Linked DNA regions of Homo sapiens. The protein of the gene in region 2 interacts with the protein of the main gene of each other region in a biochemical or structural test. Each region holds a gene or a part of one and is shown on either strand. Other genes may lie near its edges.

Region 1 (7,766 bases), on a different chromosome or scaffold from region 2:
ACGCCCAGCTAATTTTGTTCATTCTTGTAGAGACAGGTCTCACCACGCCCGGCCCCATTCAAATATTTATTGAGTACTTACTCTGTGCCAGGCCCTCTCTCAGGCACTGCAGATATATCAGTGAGAAACTGTTTTTACATTCTAACTTAATAAAGGGTACTCAAAGTGACTACTCAGAAAGAGGAAACCAAGGTTCCAAGAGGAAATGGTTGCAAGGCCCTTCGTAGGCAGATATTGCTACCTACACAGCTTCTTTAGGGCCAAAGTTGGTTCTCTGGCTCTCCAAACCCAGGACCTAGCAAGGGTTAAAGGTATATTGCAGAGGGGAAGGCAGTGAACGGAAAAATGGCACAGTAAGCCCAAACATTCCCAGAATGGACTGTATAGGAGATTAACAATTGGGCCATATGGTTATAGGTGCGTACTCTTGAGGACGCCCAAAAAACTAAATTGTTGAATCTTCACATGCTATGTAGATACAAGTTGATGATAATGGTAAAGGTATTCCTGAAGTATCTGTAGGCCTATACACATGCTGATAATTAAGAGGGACTCTTTTTTCCTTTTCTTTTTTTTGAGACGGAGTCTCGCTCTGTTGCCCAGGCTGAAGTGCAGTGGCACGGTCTCGGCTCACTGCAACCTCTGCCTCTCGGGTTCAAGCAATTCTCCTGCCTCAGCCTCCAGAGTACCTGGGATTACAGGCGCCTGCCACCACACCTGGCTAATTTTTTGTATTTTTAGTAGAGACGGGGTTTCACCATGTTGGCCAGGCTGGTCTCAAACTACTGACCTCATGATCCGCCCGTCTGGGCCTCCCAAAGCACTGGTGTGAGCCACTGCACCCAGACTAAGAGGGATTTCTTTCGGGTAAGTAGATTTTCACTAGGCTAGCACTCAGCTTTTTTTCATCCCATGGGTCAGTACAAATGTGTCCCAACTAGGTAACAATATTGTTAAAAATCTTGTCTAATTCTCAGGAAGTAGTGTGGAACATGTTTAAGGCCTTCCATGTTGAAATGTGGTCCCACACCAAAGCCTTTGAAAATTAATAACAAAAATATGGCCGGGTGCGGTGGCTCACGCCTGTAATCCCAGCACTTTGGGAGGCCGAGGCGGGCGGACCACCTGTCAGGAGTTGGAGACCAGCCTGGCCAACATGGTGAAACCCTGTCTCTACTAAAAATACAAAAATTAGCTGGGCGTGGTGGCGGGCGCCTGTAATCTCAGCTACTGGGGAGACTGAGGCAGGAGAATCGCTTGAACGGGGAGGCGGAGGTTGCAGTGAGCCATGATGGCGCCATTGCACTCCAGCCTGGGTGACAAGAGCCAAACTCCATCTCAAAAAAAAAAAAAAAAAAGTACGTGTGTATTTTTCACGCACTCTACTCAGCCAAGCAACCAAATCTCTATTGTCTATGATTTACGAGTCATGTCAATCAAGTCAAAAAATTAGTGACAACTATACGACTGAGTCCTTCCTCCCCCACTGAACATCAGCCTATTTCAAAAGTTTCCGAGATGTTTTCTACAATGAAAAGCATTGTACTTAACAATTTGTTCCAGGCACAGTGGCTCACGCCTGTAATCACAGCACTTCGAGAGGCCGAGGTGGGAGAATCACCTGAGTCCAGGAGTTCGAGACCAGCCTGGGCAACACAGCGAGACCCCGTCTCTCCCAAAAACATTACCTGGCCCTGGCGATATGCACCTGTAGTCCCAGCTACTCTGGAGGCAGAGGCGGGAGGATCGCTTGTGCCTAGGAGATCAAGGCTGCAGTGAGCCATGATCTCTCCATTGCACACCTGCCTGGGTGACAGAATGAGACCCCATCTTTAAAATAAAAATTAAAAAAAATTTATGCTACAGATTTACATTTGGTAAATGTATTCTTTTGTCTTTGCTTTATTTGTTGTGTGTGTGTGAATTTTAAATGTCTGGGATAAATGATCATTTATAAGTATTTAATAAAACAAAAACCCTTTGCTCCTCCTATTAAATAACAGCCTTACCAGCAACTCTTTCCAAACACGAAACTATTATGAAACATGATACCATGTGCCAAAGCTGTCCTGGGGAAGGCTTCACTCACACACAAATGGCTGGATAATAGTATGAGAGAAACGAGGAGTTTCTTTACATATCACAAACAGTATCTTCAAGTGCATGGTCACGGAAGAGTTAAAGGGACAGCAGGCTAGGCAGACTACAACAAAATCATCCCAGTCCACTCCTAATACCTAAAAACAAAGCTGGCCGCCTGCTCCGGAAAGATGGGAGTACCAAAAGAAACCAAACCCAAACATCCCGTAATAAAAACTCTTGTGACGACTTCCCTGTTTAGGGGCACGCCGGGTTTCCTACTTCACTTCCTAAATGTCAGGCCCTACAGTGGGCGAGCCAAGGTCTCCTCCCTCGGGAGGCTCGCGGACCTAGTGCAGGGGAAAGACACGAACAAGACCCCAAAGATCTACGTGTAGGGAAGACTCCAATATAGAATTGAGCAGTCCGGAGGAGGAAAAGTTAATTCTGCCAGGATTAGGGTAGGAGGGGTTGAGGGAGGTGTCCCAGAGATGACTCTAGCTAGACCCTAGGGAGAGGGAAGGATTGGGGAGGGGTGAAGGAATCCTCCGAAAAGCGATGGAAAGTGACGGAGAAAGGCAGAAGCAAACCCACTGGGCGCCACCCCACTCCCGTGTCCCGAGACGCCCCCGGCCCCGCCCATACTCCCTCCCGGCTCCCAGGGCGGGGGCCGCGGGGGAAGTAGGGGCGTAGGTGATGCTCCCCTCCTCGAGCCGAGGAGGCGGGAGGCTGCGGCGTCGCCCCTCGCCGGGCGAGATCGGCATGGGGGCGACTCGGGCCCCACCCAGCCCTCCGAGAGGCGGTGATGCCGCGCTCCACGCCCGCCACCGCGCGGCAGACAGCTCCCCACCGAACGCGGACACTCACTTTCTCGTGGAAGATGGACTCCATGTTTATTTGTCTGGAGCCAACGGCCCCCACGCCGAACCACCCCCTCCAGCTCCGCCCCCTGCCCCTCTCCTCCGCCCACCCCGCCCCTCCCCGGCCCGCCCCGGTACCCCGCCCACGTGCCGCACGCAGACCAATCACCCGTGAGGATGCGAGTGTCGTGAAGCGAAGAGCGAGTGAACGCCGGGGACACGTGACCTTGGTAGCGCGTCCTCCTAGCTTCTGTTAGCGGGCCTTCTGGGGGATGCTACATCGCCACCTGCTGTCTGGAGGATCTTCTCCGCTTCCCACCCATTTCTATGGATTCTTAGGTTTCTGGGGGGAGGTCTGGACCGCTCACCTGGGTTCTATGTTCTTTTTGTTTTCCACTTTGACTTTCTACTGTGTTCATATAACTATTTACTTTCTTTCTCCTCCTCCTGCACTGAAAGTTTAGTAAGAAAAAAGCCATCATTACATTCTCCCAAAACCCAGCACTTGTATAAAAATGATAGCTAGGCCGGGCGAGGTGCTTCACGCTTGTAATCCCAGCACTTTGGGAGGCCGAGGCGGGCGGATCACCTGAGGTCGGGAGTTTGAGATCAGCCTGACCAACATGGAGAAACCCCGTCTCCACTAAAAATACAAAATTACCCGGGCGTGGTGGTGCATGCCTGTAATCCCAGGTACTCGGGAGGCTGAGGCAGGAGAATCGCTTGAACCCGGGAGGCCGAGGTTGTGGTGAGCCGAGATCGTGCCATTGCACGCCAGCCTGGGCAACAAAAGCGAAACCCCTCCCCCACCACCCCAAAAAAGAAAAAAAATGATAGTTAATATTTACATAAGGCTTTCTATGAGCTAGGCACTTTTCTAAATGCTTTGCATATATTATCAAATTTAATACAGCAAACTTTGATGTAGGTGTTGATGTTATTCATACACATGAGGAAACCGAGGCACGGAGAGGTTAAGAACAGCACAATGTCCAAGGTCAGATAGTAAGTTGTCTTGCCAGGATTCAAATCCAGGTGGCTTGTTACCAGTGTAGGTGTTCGGACCCTTTAGAGGGAACTTAGAAGTCCCATAAATTGTGTGGGAGACGGGGAGGTAGCAGCGGTTTGATGAAACTTAAATGGAAGGATAGGTGCAGATCTTGCACCTTGAAACCAGATTAAGGTGTACTTTTTTTTTTTTTTTTTTTGAGACGGCCCTCTCTCTGTCCCCCAGGCTGGAGTGCAGTGGCACAATCTCCCCGCTCACTGCAACTTCTGCTTCCTGGGTTCAAGTGATTCTCTTGCCTCAGCCTCCCAAACAGCTGGGATTACAGGCGTGCACCACGAAGTCCAACTATTTTTGTATTCTTAGTAGAGAAGAGGTTGTACCATGTTGGCCAGGCTGGTCTCGAACCCCCAGCCTCAGGTGATCCACCTGCCTTGGCCTCCCAAAGTCCTGGAATTACAGGCGTGAGCCACCGCACCTGGCCAAAGTGTACCTTTTAAAGGATGTGGGGAGCTATATAAATATTTTAAAAGAAGACATGTGGTCATGTTTGCCTTTTAGAAAGATCACTGGCTGCAGAAAAAAGCAGTTGCTGTTGAAGGAATCTTGGGAGAGACGATGGTGGTTTAAGAGAGTGTCTTAAAGATGGAAATAGCCCATTTTGAGAGATTCTTTGGACGTAAAGAGACTCAACAGAATGTGGTGATGATACCGAGTGGAGGAATACTAGCCTTTTTCGTCTTGAGTCGAATTACATAAAACGACATGGACAAACGTGGAGTGGTTTTAAGGAGCGGAGAGTTTAATAAGCAAGAAGGAAGGGAGAAGAAAGAAAGAAGCAGCTCCCCTGTACAGAGACAGAGGGATGGGTGCTCCAAAGCTGAGAGAGGAGACCCAGAGTGCGTGGGAGATACCAGCCAGTTATAGGAGGAGGATGCAGGAGGCGGTGTCTGATTTGCATAGGGCTCAGGGGACTGGTTTGACCACGCATGTCATTCATGTAGCCCCCTAATAAAACTGGCCATTCCACCCTAGCCTTTTAATATGCAAATGCAGGGCGCTATGATGTTCTACTCATGTGGGGATATGTGGGGGTGGCCATGTTGCCAGGCACTTGTGAGAACAAGGGCAAGAGGACGATGGTGGGAATCACCGTGTTGGTGGACCCAGTTTCTAACTGCCGGCATTTGCATATCAAACGTTGCCAGCTCGGGTCTAAAAGTCAGGGCTTTTATGCTAGACAGGAAACGTCTCAGGAGCTGCTTCAAAAGAGACAAAAACTTTTCAAGGACCCCTTTTCCTCTCTATCTGCCTAAAATAATTTCTTAATAACTCCTACCACAATGAGGGATTGGGGAAGGTAGGAGACAGAAATGTGAAGGTGACTTCTGGGTTTGTGACCTGGGCAGCCACTGTGGCAGGAGTGGTATTGAGAGCAGAAACATGGGAGGAGCAGCAAGGTTTTGGGAAGAGAATAAGATAGAGTTTACATTTTGGAGATACTGAATTTGAAATATCTATGGACATTTGAGTAATTATGTTGAGTAATGGTTGGATACCGAGTCTGAAGTTCAGGAGGCTGCTTTGAACTCAATGAGGAATTGTCATTAAAAAACAGATAGCTAAGGCCATTGTGGTGGTGCATGCCTGTAATCCCAGCACTTTGGGAGGCTGAGGCAGGCAGATCTCTTGAGGCCAGGAGTTCAAGACCAGGCTGGCCAACATGGTGAAACCTCATCTCTACAAAAATACAAAAATTAGCCGGGCGTGGTGGCTCATGCCTATAATCCCAGCTACTCAGGAGGCTGAGGCAGGAGAATCACTTGAACCGGGAGGTAGAGGTTGCAGTGAGCCAAGATCGTGCTATTGCACTCCAGCCTGGACAACAGAGTGAAACTGTGTCTCAAAAAAAAAAAAAAAAAAAAGTAACTGAAACCATAGGAGTGAATAAAATCATTTTAGGGAAAAGGAAGTGATTGAGAAGAGGGCTAGAGCTGAGCCGTGAGGATAGGAGAAGCAATAACCAAGGAGGAGGGAGGAGAAGCAAGAGAGTGTGACATTGTGGAAGGCCTGGGCAGGGGATGCTTCAAGGGGTAGTCAGTGTCAGTTGCTGCCAAGAAGTCAAGCAATATAAGGTCGTATAAGAGCCCACTAAATTTTGTTGCTATGGAGACCATTGGTGACTTTGGGGACTGCAGGTTCAGAGAAGTAGAGGGGGCAGTGAGAGGTAAGAGAATGGAGACTGCCAGAGAGGACCAGGTGCTGAAGGAGAGGATTCGGTACCATTTATCGAGCATCTCTGTGTGCACGGTTCACAGCCTTGTATGGGGGAAAGTCCATGTTCTTAAGGATTTGTGTGGCCTACCCAGGGAAATAAATTATAGTCTCATGAAGTGAAAAAAATTGCAAACCACCTTTTCTGTTTTTGTTTTGTTTTTTTAAATTGTAGTTGATGTCTTTCAAATGAATTAATGAAGTCGAAGGTCTTAGTCTTTTTGGGGCGCTTTAACAAGATATCTTAGAGTAATTTATAAACAGAAGTTTATTACAGATCTGTAATAAATTTACAGGCTAGGAAGTCCAAGATCAAGGCTCTAACGGATTTAGTGTCTGGTGAGGGCCCATTCCTCATAGATGGTGCATTTTTTTGTCCTCACATGGTGGAAGGGGAAAAGGGGCAAACAAGCTTCCTCTCTGCATAAGGGCACTAATCTCAGTCACAAGGCTTGGCCTTATGATCTAATCATCTCCCAAAGGCCCCATCTGTTAAACCAACACACTGGAGACTACATTTCAACAAATGAATTTTGGAAAGATACAAACATTCAGATCATAGCACCAAGTATCTGGGAATCATTTTTTATTCTCTTCCCACAACTTCTCCACGTCACCCCTTATTCCAATCAGTCCTCAAATGCTATAAATCCACTCCTAACTCTCTCTTGCCCTTGTCTTCATTGCTACTACTTAGTTCAAGCCCTCTTGGTATCTTGTGTACTCTAGTCCAAGGATCTTTGAATTGGTCTTCTGATTCCAGTCTCAATATGTCTAATTCATGGTGCTGTCAGTGATCTTCCAAAAATGCAAATCTCACAAGATTTTCTTTTGTTTAACAAGAATAACTGCATATCAGGCCCTGGGACTATAACCATGAAAAACACAAACAGTCCCACCTTCAGGGGACTTACATTGGCAGGGATTCTTAAATGATTACACAACTCTGACTTCAAAATCCTTCAGTGATGGCCGGGTGCAATGGCTCATGCCTGTAATCCCAGTACTTTGGGAGGCCGAGGCGGGTGGATCACCTGAGGTCAGGAGTTCAAGACCAGCCTATCCAACATGGTGAAACCCCATCTCTACTAAAAATACAAAAATTAGCCGGGTGTTGTGGTGGGCACCTGTAATCCCAGCTACTTGGGAAGCTGAGGCAGAATTGCTTGAACCTGGGCGGCAGAGGTTGCAGTGAGATGAGATCGCAACAGTGCACTCCAGCCTGGGCAACAGAGTGAGACTCTGCCTCAAAAAAAAAAAAAAAAAAAAAAAATCCTTCAGTGACTTCCTATTGCCATCCTATTGCTGGCCTGAAAAGCTCTGTGATCTGGACCAACCACCTGTCCTGTTCTGTTCTCCCCAAATTCTCTCTGCCCCAGTCACTCCAGACTCTAGTCATACTAGCTTCTTCCTTTTACTTCTGGAAAGTTCACTAAGGAAAAGTATTTTGTGCCACCGCTACACCTTGAGCATGCCTACATTACAGCACCATTACATCATACTGGAAGTATTACTTTATATACTACTGAACTATCAGCTTTTGAGGG
Region 2 (7,091 bases):
CATCTGCTCATCACCGTTATATCCGTGCAACTGTCATTGGTATACCTGAGTGTTTATCTTGCAAAAATGTTACTATTCCCTATTTTATCGTGTAGTGGCCTATGAAACGTTCTGTTGTGTTGTTTCTCAAATAAATACGCTTTTAAAAATGTAAGTAAATTTTCGAAGAATGTTTAGTATTTCTTCCAGAATTGTATTTTGGGATTTTGACCTTTTGGGATTGTGATTTTCAGAATTTTAGACTTTAGGGATTTTGATCTTTGGAGATTACAGTATTTTATTCAAAATTACGGTGTTCAGGACTGTCTTTTGAGATTATGTCCCAAAGCCAATCAACATATATTTAATTTAGTAATTTATTTTCTCTGCACTACTCTCTCTCTGGGTAAGGCATCACTGTACTGACCCTAGAAGCACTAAGTGATTACTGTTGAAGAGGATAGTCTATTTTCTGTTTGGAAAAAAAAAAAATTCAATACTAAAATTTTATATTAACAAAAAGTTTTTTTTTTTTAATCAAAGTACATAAAATAAAGGTGGACACAACTGTAAGTGATCACCAACCAGGGGATGTTTGGGATTTTTAGATGCATTAAAAGAGAGTATAGAGAATATCCACCTGCAAGTAAGATTGTATTCTTTTGCAACCCTGCGATTTTCAAATGGCACCCCAACACAGTCTTTGGTCAGGATAAGGGATCCTGCAGGCCTAGCCTTACCGTCCACATCAAATATAGGTGGAGGGATGCCATATTCTCCACATTTGGAGCTCTGTCAGGCTGCTCCCTTTCCACCAGTCCTATCCAGTGATACTGCAGACAAAGGGTGAGGCAACAGGAGACATCATACCGATGTTGATCAGGAGAGGAAGAAGGTGCAATCTTACTTCCAGGATTTCACATTTGGAAGAATGCCTTGGGAGTGGTGGGTAGCCCAAGGCTGTTCCCAGGAAAAGAAGCAGGCACAGGGCCCAGGACTCAGGCTCCATTTTGACCCAACGTTTATTGTCCTTTTACAACATGTCATTTTTTGGTTTAGAAACTGCTTGTGATTAGTTTTCCAACATTAACTCAAAAGCATGTAAAATAAATCAACCTACTCTCTATATAAACATCCAGCAACTGTGGCCCCTACCCACCTACCCAGGTTGGATAGGGGGAAGGGAGGGCTCGGGCAGCATTGAGTCAAGTGCAGATGCTTTACTGTGGCAGGTGGCAGTAGTGCCTTGGTTCACACCCCACACAGGTCCCCTGCACTGCCCCAAACTACAACAGAAATGGCATAGGCCCAAGGCCCAATTCCCTGTTGGTAATTCACTCTCCGCCTACCAAATGAAAATCGCTTTTATTTTATCGCTTTTGTTTTGTATTTTTGCAACAGAAACCCCCTGTCCAGAGTCAGACTGTAGCTGAACTGTTCAGACTGGAGAATGGAGCAGGCTGTGGGCGCACCCCTGGTCCCTCTCCTGGGCAAGCGCCCCCACCCCCAGGGAACAAGGTCCAGGCAGGCCAGCTCACTGCACGCTGGCCACCACCACTTAGCCATACAGGTCATCATCATTGTCTTCTGTGTATACACTGCCACCTGTGCCGCCTCCACTGCCCTGACTGGGGCCAGCTCCACCCTGGTTCCCTGAAGGGAATCTGTGTACAAGAGCAAAGCCAAAAAAGAGGGTTAGGACAGGGCCTGTGTAAGATTTCCACAACTACCCCTCTAGCTTCCTTAGGACTCCCATCCCTTTTGGTGTAGGTCCCCAAAGTAACTTAAGCACTGTCTAATGCTCCCAACCAACTTACCTGAAGCTGCCAAAGCCCCGACTCTGCTGAAGGGTCTGGGCAAACATCTCATACTTCCGAATGTCATTGTCACTGACAGAACGGCGCGCAAAGCGCATGGCTTCTTCAAAGTGATCTCGACGGATCTCAGGCACTGGATCATCCTCTTCTACCTCCTATAGTTGGTAAACACAGATCACTAGGGCTAGTTAAAGCCCAGCCTGGATTTCATCCCAGGCCTCCCATTACTGCAGTTTATTGGTCTCCTTGCCCTTCCAATCCAACCTGAGGTAAGATGCTAGGCCATGCTTCCTAAAATTGAGTCACTGCTCTGCTTAAAAACTTGTCAATGCACTCTGGAAAAGGGAAAACTGTAGGGACAGAAATCACATCAGTGATGGGGCTTAAGGAGGGGAGATGTTGACTGAAGTGGCTAAGGAAACTTTTTGAGATAGTAGAAATTTTAAGTCTCAACTGTGGTAGTAGTTATAGAACTTACACACACTTGTCATAAAGCATGGAAATGGTATATAGAAAGAGTGAATTTTATTGTATTTATATCATACCTTAATAAACCTTAATACTTTAAAAGGAAATGCCAATGGCTTTCAGTGCTTACCACATTTGGATTACATCCTACCTAGCGGTCTCACTTCCAGTGACATATATACTCTTAAATCTACCCAGGGTTTCCCAATGATTGCAATCCTACTACTAGAGCACATTATTTGGGCTGCTTATTCCCTTTATTCAAATTCTACTCTCTTCACAGCCCAGCTCAAAACCTATCTCTTCCATTGAGAGGCCAATTTCTGTGACTTATGTGACTACCTCCTAGGATTAGTTCATCAGTAGTTGTTAAGCTTTTATGGGAGAGAGAAGGGATGTCACAGACCCTTCAAAAGGGAAAGAAAGCCATTTATTTGCTCATTAAGTCCCATGTTTGGAACTTAATGAATTAATTAAGGGTAACACAAGACATAGTGGAAAACAAGTGAGATGACAGAGATCTTACCTTTATGGAACTTACAAACACATGAATTTGCCTTTTCATTTTGGGAGGTCTGTGGACCCTATCCCTTCCCCAACCATCAGGGATAAGTATATGAGTCTCATCTCAGCTCAAAACCTTGCTCTGTGGTTCACGCCTGTAATCCCAGCACTTTGGGAGGCCGAGGTGGGCACATCACAAGGTCAGGAGATCGAGACCATCCTGGCTAACGTGGTGAAACCACGTTTCTACTAAAAAAAAAATACAAAAAACTAGCCGGACATGGTGGCATGTGCCTGTAGTCCCAGCTACTCGGGAGGCTGAGGCAGGAGAATCGCTTGAACCTGGGAGGCAGAAGTTGCAGTGAGCCAAGATCGTGCCACTGCACTCCAGTCTGGGCAACAGAGTGAGACTTCGTCTCAAAAAAAAAACAAAAAACAAAAAACAAAAAAAACCTTGCTGTGTTTGCTGCACTCTCATACTTTGATTTCCCTCATGGAGCTTGGTTCAGACTGAGAATGGAGCCTGACCATCTCTTCTCGGCCTTATTCCAAATTGAATGGATTCACCTCAGCATTCTTTATCTTTGATGCCCTATTAAAATTCTTCTCAGTTAGATGATCTTTCCAACAGCTTCTACTCTCAACTCCAGGGCATGGTGGTGGCTGCTGCCTGGCTCTCCATGATTGGCACATCTGGGGAAAGGATGCAGACTCACCATGGCTGATGGGTTTGTCTGCCTCTCTCGTTCTCGCCTAATCTCACTCTCGATGGATTCACGGATGGCCAGCTTGCAAGCACGCTGGCAAATCTCTGTCAGGTCAGCTCCAGAGAAGCCATTAGTCATTTTAGCCAGGAACTCCAAGTCCACATCCTAAAAGCAGCAGCAGAGGTACCTTAGCATTTAGCCTCTCCTCTCGAGATACGCAGATCTTTGGGCTACCCGAGCACTCCCAACTACAGTTTGCCCCTTCTTTGGCCACCCCATTTTATTCCTGATTCTAGATTATCTTGATATCCTCAAAAATTCTACCTTCCCTTTAGACCAACCCTAACCCCAGTGGAATCTTGTCCAGAAACTAAAGAGCACTCCGTACCAGCCTGAGGACTCATGCAAGTCTCCCACAGCCCATGATCTTGCACCTGCCTTGGCAACTGGGGACTTGCGCAGGTTAGCCTTGAGGATGGCAACACGGGACTTCTCATCAGGAAGTGGGATGTAGATGAGCTGATCAAGACGGCCAGGTCTGAGGATGGCAGGATCAATGATGTCAGGCCGGTTGGTAGCGCCAATGATGAACACATTTTTTTTTGTGGACATGCCATCCATTTCTGTCAGGATCTGGTTGATGACTCGGTCAGCAGCCCCACCACCATCTCCAATGTTACCTCCACGAGCCTTGGCAATCGAATCCAGCTCATCAAAGAATAGCACACAGGGGGCAGCTTGGCGGGCCTGTAGGAGGAATGGATTGATTCAAGCACTAACAAAACTAGATGTCTCTAGGCAAACGTGGTGGCTCACACCTGTATTCCCAGCACTTTGGGAGGCCAAGGTGGGAGGATCACTTGAGGCCAGAAATCCGAAACCAGCATGGGCAACATACTGAGACTTTGTCTCTACAAAAAATAAAAAATTAGCCAGATGTGGTGACGCATGCCTATAGTCCCAGCTACTCAGGAGGCTGAAGTAGGAGAATTGCTTAAGCCCAGGTTTCAAGGTTACAGTGAGCCATGACTGTACCACTGCCCTCCAACCTGGGCAACAGAGCCAGACCCTGTCTCAAGAGAGAGAGAGAGAAAAAAAAAATAACACTAGGTCTCTCAGACCTCAGAAAGAAAATCAAGTGACTTACTGTGCAGTTGAGCAGCCAGCACTAAGAATATTTCAACCCTCTTAAAGAAAAACAGCCTCTATTCCTTGCCCTCAGGCAAATCAATACATAGTTCAGCCTATTGTAGCTCACCTTGTCAAAGATTTCTCTGACATTGGCCTCAGACTCCCCAAACCACATGGTGAGCAGCTCAGGACCCTTGATGGAGATGAAGTTGGCCTGGCATTCATTAGCAATGGCTTTGGCCAACAAAGTTTTCCCACAGCCAGGAGGTCCATAGAACAGAACTCCCTTGGAAGGTGTCATGCCAAACTTCAGGAATTTGTCTGGGTGCTCCACAGGATACTAGGAGGAAAAGGAAAGAGGGTTCAAGGCTACCTCCACATTTTGAAAGAAACCTAACTAAACAGAAGCATCCCCTCCATTATTTCATGGTGTACCCAATGGTATCAGATCCAGGTTCTCTAGAAGAAGACTCCTTAGTGCCTCAAACCTAAGAACAGTAGGTTCCTAAGTCGTGCTCTCACAACTCTTGCAGCAAATGTGTTGACACCCTGAGATCACCCAGATCAATTACAATGTACTGAGACAGTGACTCACCCTGGACCAAGTTGCCCTACCTGGACCAGCTCCTGTAGCTCACGTTTGACATCCTCTAGGCCCCCGATGTCTTCCCAGGTTACCTGTGGCACCTCTACCACGGTTTCCCGCAGTGCTGATGGGTTACTCTGGCTCAAGGCCCACTAGAAAAGGAGGGAAAACTGGGGATGAGACTTATCAAGGGAGGGGTCAAAGCACGTATGTGTGTACCTGAGGCACGGGTGTGGTCCTTACCCGGAAGTCATCCATAGTAACTGCTAGAGAGTTCATGACCTCGGCATCAATGGTCTCATCCTCTAGGTCAATGAGATCCATCTTCTTGCGGATGGCTTGCAGAGCAGCCTCTGAGCACAGGGCTGCTAAGTCAGCACCCACATGCCCGTGAGTCTCATTGGCTACCTGCAGAGAAAGATCTACTTACTATGCTGCCTCAAAGACCCAGCTGCTGCAGGAGGCTCAGAGACAATAGAATCCTTCCCCTGACTGCTATCCCTGGGTCCTCTCATTTCCTTGAATATATACTATCAATACCTTTATGGGCTGGGTTTTAAGTACTTAATTCTGGACTTGGGACCTAGAAATAAGGCTGCTCCAACAATTCTGATTTACTCTAAATGCAGCGTCAACTATGAAAAATGCCAACTCCCATTTCCTGGATTCAATCTCAGATTACTTCCTTTCCCCTGTCCAGAAATCAAAACCCATCTCCTCACATCTTAACCTTATGTCTCTAGCCAGTTCCCAGCAACTGCCTAGAGACACTGTAACGCCTGGTCAGCCATCATCATCACTTCACCTGTTCCAGGTCCACATCATCTGCCAGCTTCATGTTCTTGGTATGGATCTGAAGAATCTCTAAGCGTCCTGTAGCATCAGGAATTCCAATATCTACCTCCCTGTCAAAGCGACCTGTGGGACAGTACACAAACATAAACAGGGCTCATCTCTAGTCCAGAGGTAAGAGACAGGCCTAGGGTGACCAACCATCTCAGCCAGCACAGGATTGTCCTAATGCCAGCACTAAAAAAGTCTCAAGCTCTGGGAAACCTTTCAGTCTCAGGAAAACCAGGGTGGTTGGTCACTCTAGACAGGACGTAGGGTAAAGGAAAAAGACCCCTGGACCCAATCACTGTGAAGGGCTTCAAGAGGATTAGGTGACTTAGATGAAGGAGAGAAGTAGGACCTAAGCAAGGACGGGGTCAAAAGTATCTGGAGTCCTTACCAAATCGCCGTAGAGCTGGGTCAATGCTGTTGGGTCTGTTGGTTGCTGCCATAACAATCACATGTGCCCTCTGCTTTAGGCCATCCATGAGGGTCAACAACTGTGATACAATGCGCCGCTCCACCTCGCCATGAGTCTGCCAGAACAGGATGTCTGGTCAGAAGTGAAGTCAGGGCCTTTCAACCCCCCTCTATCCCCTCAGGTAAGCTCCTACTTTCTCTCTTTTGGGAGCGATGGCATCTAGCTCATCAATGAAGATGATGGCAGGAGCATTCTTCTCAGCCTCCTCAAAGGCTTTACGAAGGTTGCTCTCAGACTCACCAGCCAATTTGCTCATGATCTCAGGACCTGAAAGGATACAGAATGGAGACAATAACAAAATGATAGTCTTTCCCAATTCCTCCCAAAAATCAGTTATCTTGCTTGTTTGGCCCAGAGACAGGTCCTGGGTGAGAAGGTGGTAACCTCTGCCTACTTCTCACATCCTCTACCAGCCATTATCCCAGGACAGCCACCAGGCAAGGCTGGAGAGAAGCCCAGGGACTCACTATACTCTTCTCACAGTTGAACTGTAAAGGTGACAGCAAATGCTCTAGGACCTCTGGCTAGAGCAAGAGAGATGGCACACCAGATGGCACACCACTAAACAGCATTCTCCAAGAGCCAGT

What was found. The genes of interacting proteins can lie anywhere in the genome.
Region 1: the proteins of VCP (region 2) and ATXN3 form a complex in vitro, tested with the Homo sapiens proteins (5 studies listed by BioGRID and IntAct, with this or other methods).

What each region holds. Positions count from the first base shown.
Region 1 is NC_000014.9:92,103,583-92,111,348, forward strand, and holds the start of ATXN3 (ataxin-3 reference isoform), read right to left. Parts: upstream 3,001-7,766; 5' UTR 2,971-3,000; coding exon 2,947-2,970; intron 1-2,946. UniProt on the Homo sapiens protein: Deubiquitinating enzyme involved in protein homeostasis maintenance, transcription, cytoskeleton regulation, myogenesis and degradation of misfolded chaperone substrates.
Region 2 is NC_000009.12:35,055,580-35,062,670, forward strand, and holds the end of VCP (transitional endoplasmic reticulum ATPase), read right to left. Parts: intron 6,772-7,091; coding exon 6,638-6,771; intron 6,560-6,637; coding exon 6,424-6,559; intron 6,111-6,423; coding exon 5,998-6,110; intron 5,601-5,997; coding exon 5,436-5,600; intron 5,345-5,435; coding exon 5,222-5,344; intron 4,947-5,221; coding exon 4,734-4,946; intron 4,223-4,733; coding exon 3,914-4,222; intron 3,641-3,913; coding exon 3,485-3,640; intron 1,952-3,484; coding exon 1,797-1,951; intron 1,644-1,796; coding exon 1,538-1,643; 3' UTR 485-1,537; downstream 1-484. UniProt on the Homo sapiens protein: Necessary for the fragmentation of Golgi stacks during mitosis and for their reassembly after mitosis. Involved in the formation of the transitional endoplasmic reticulum (tER).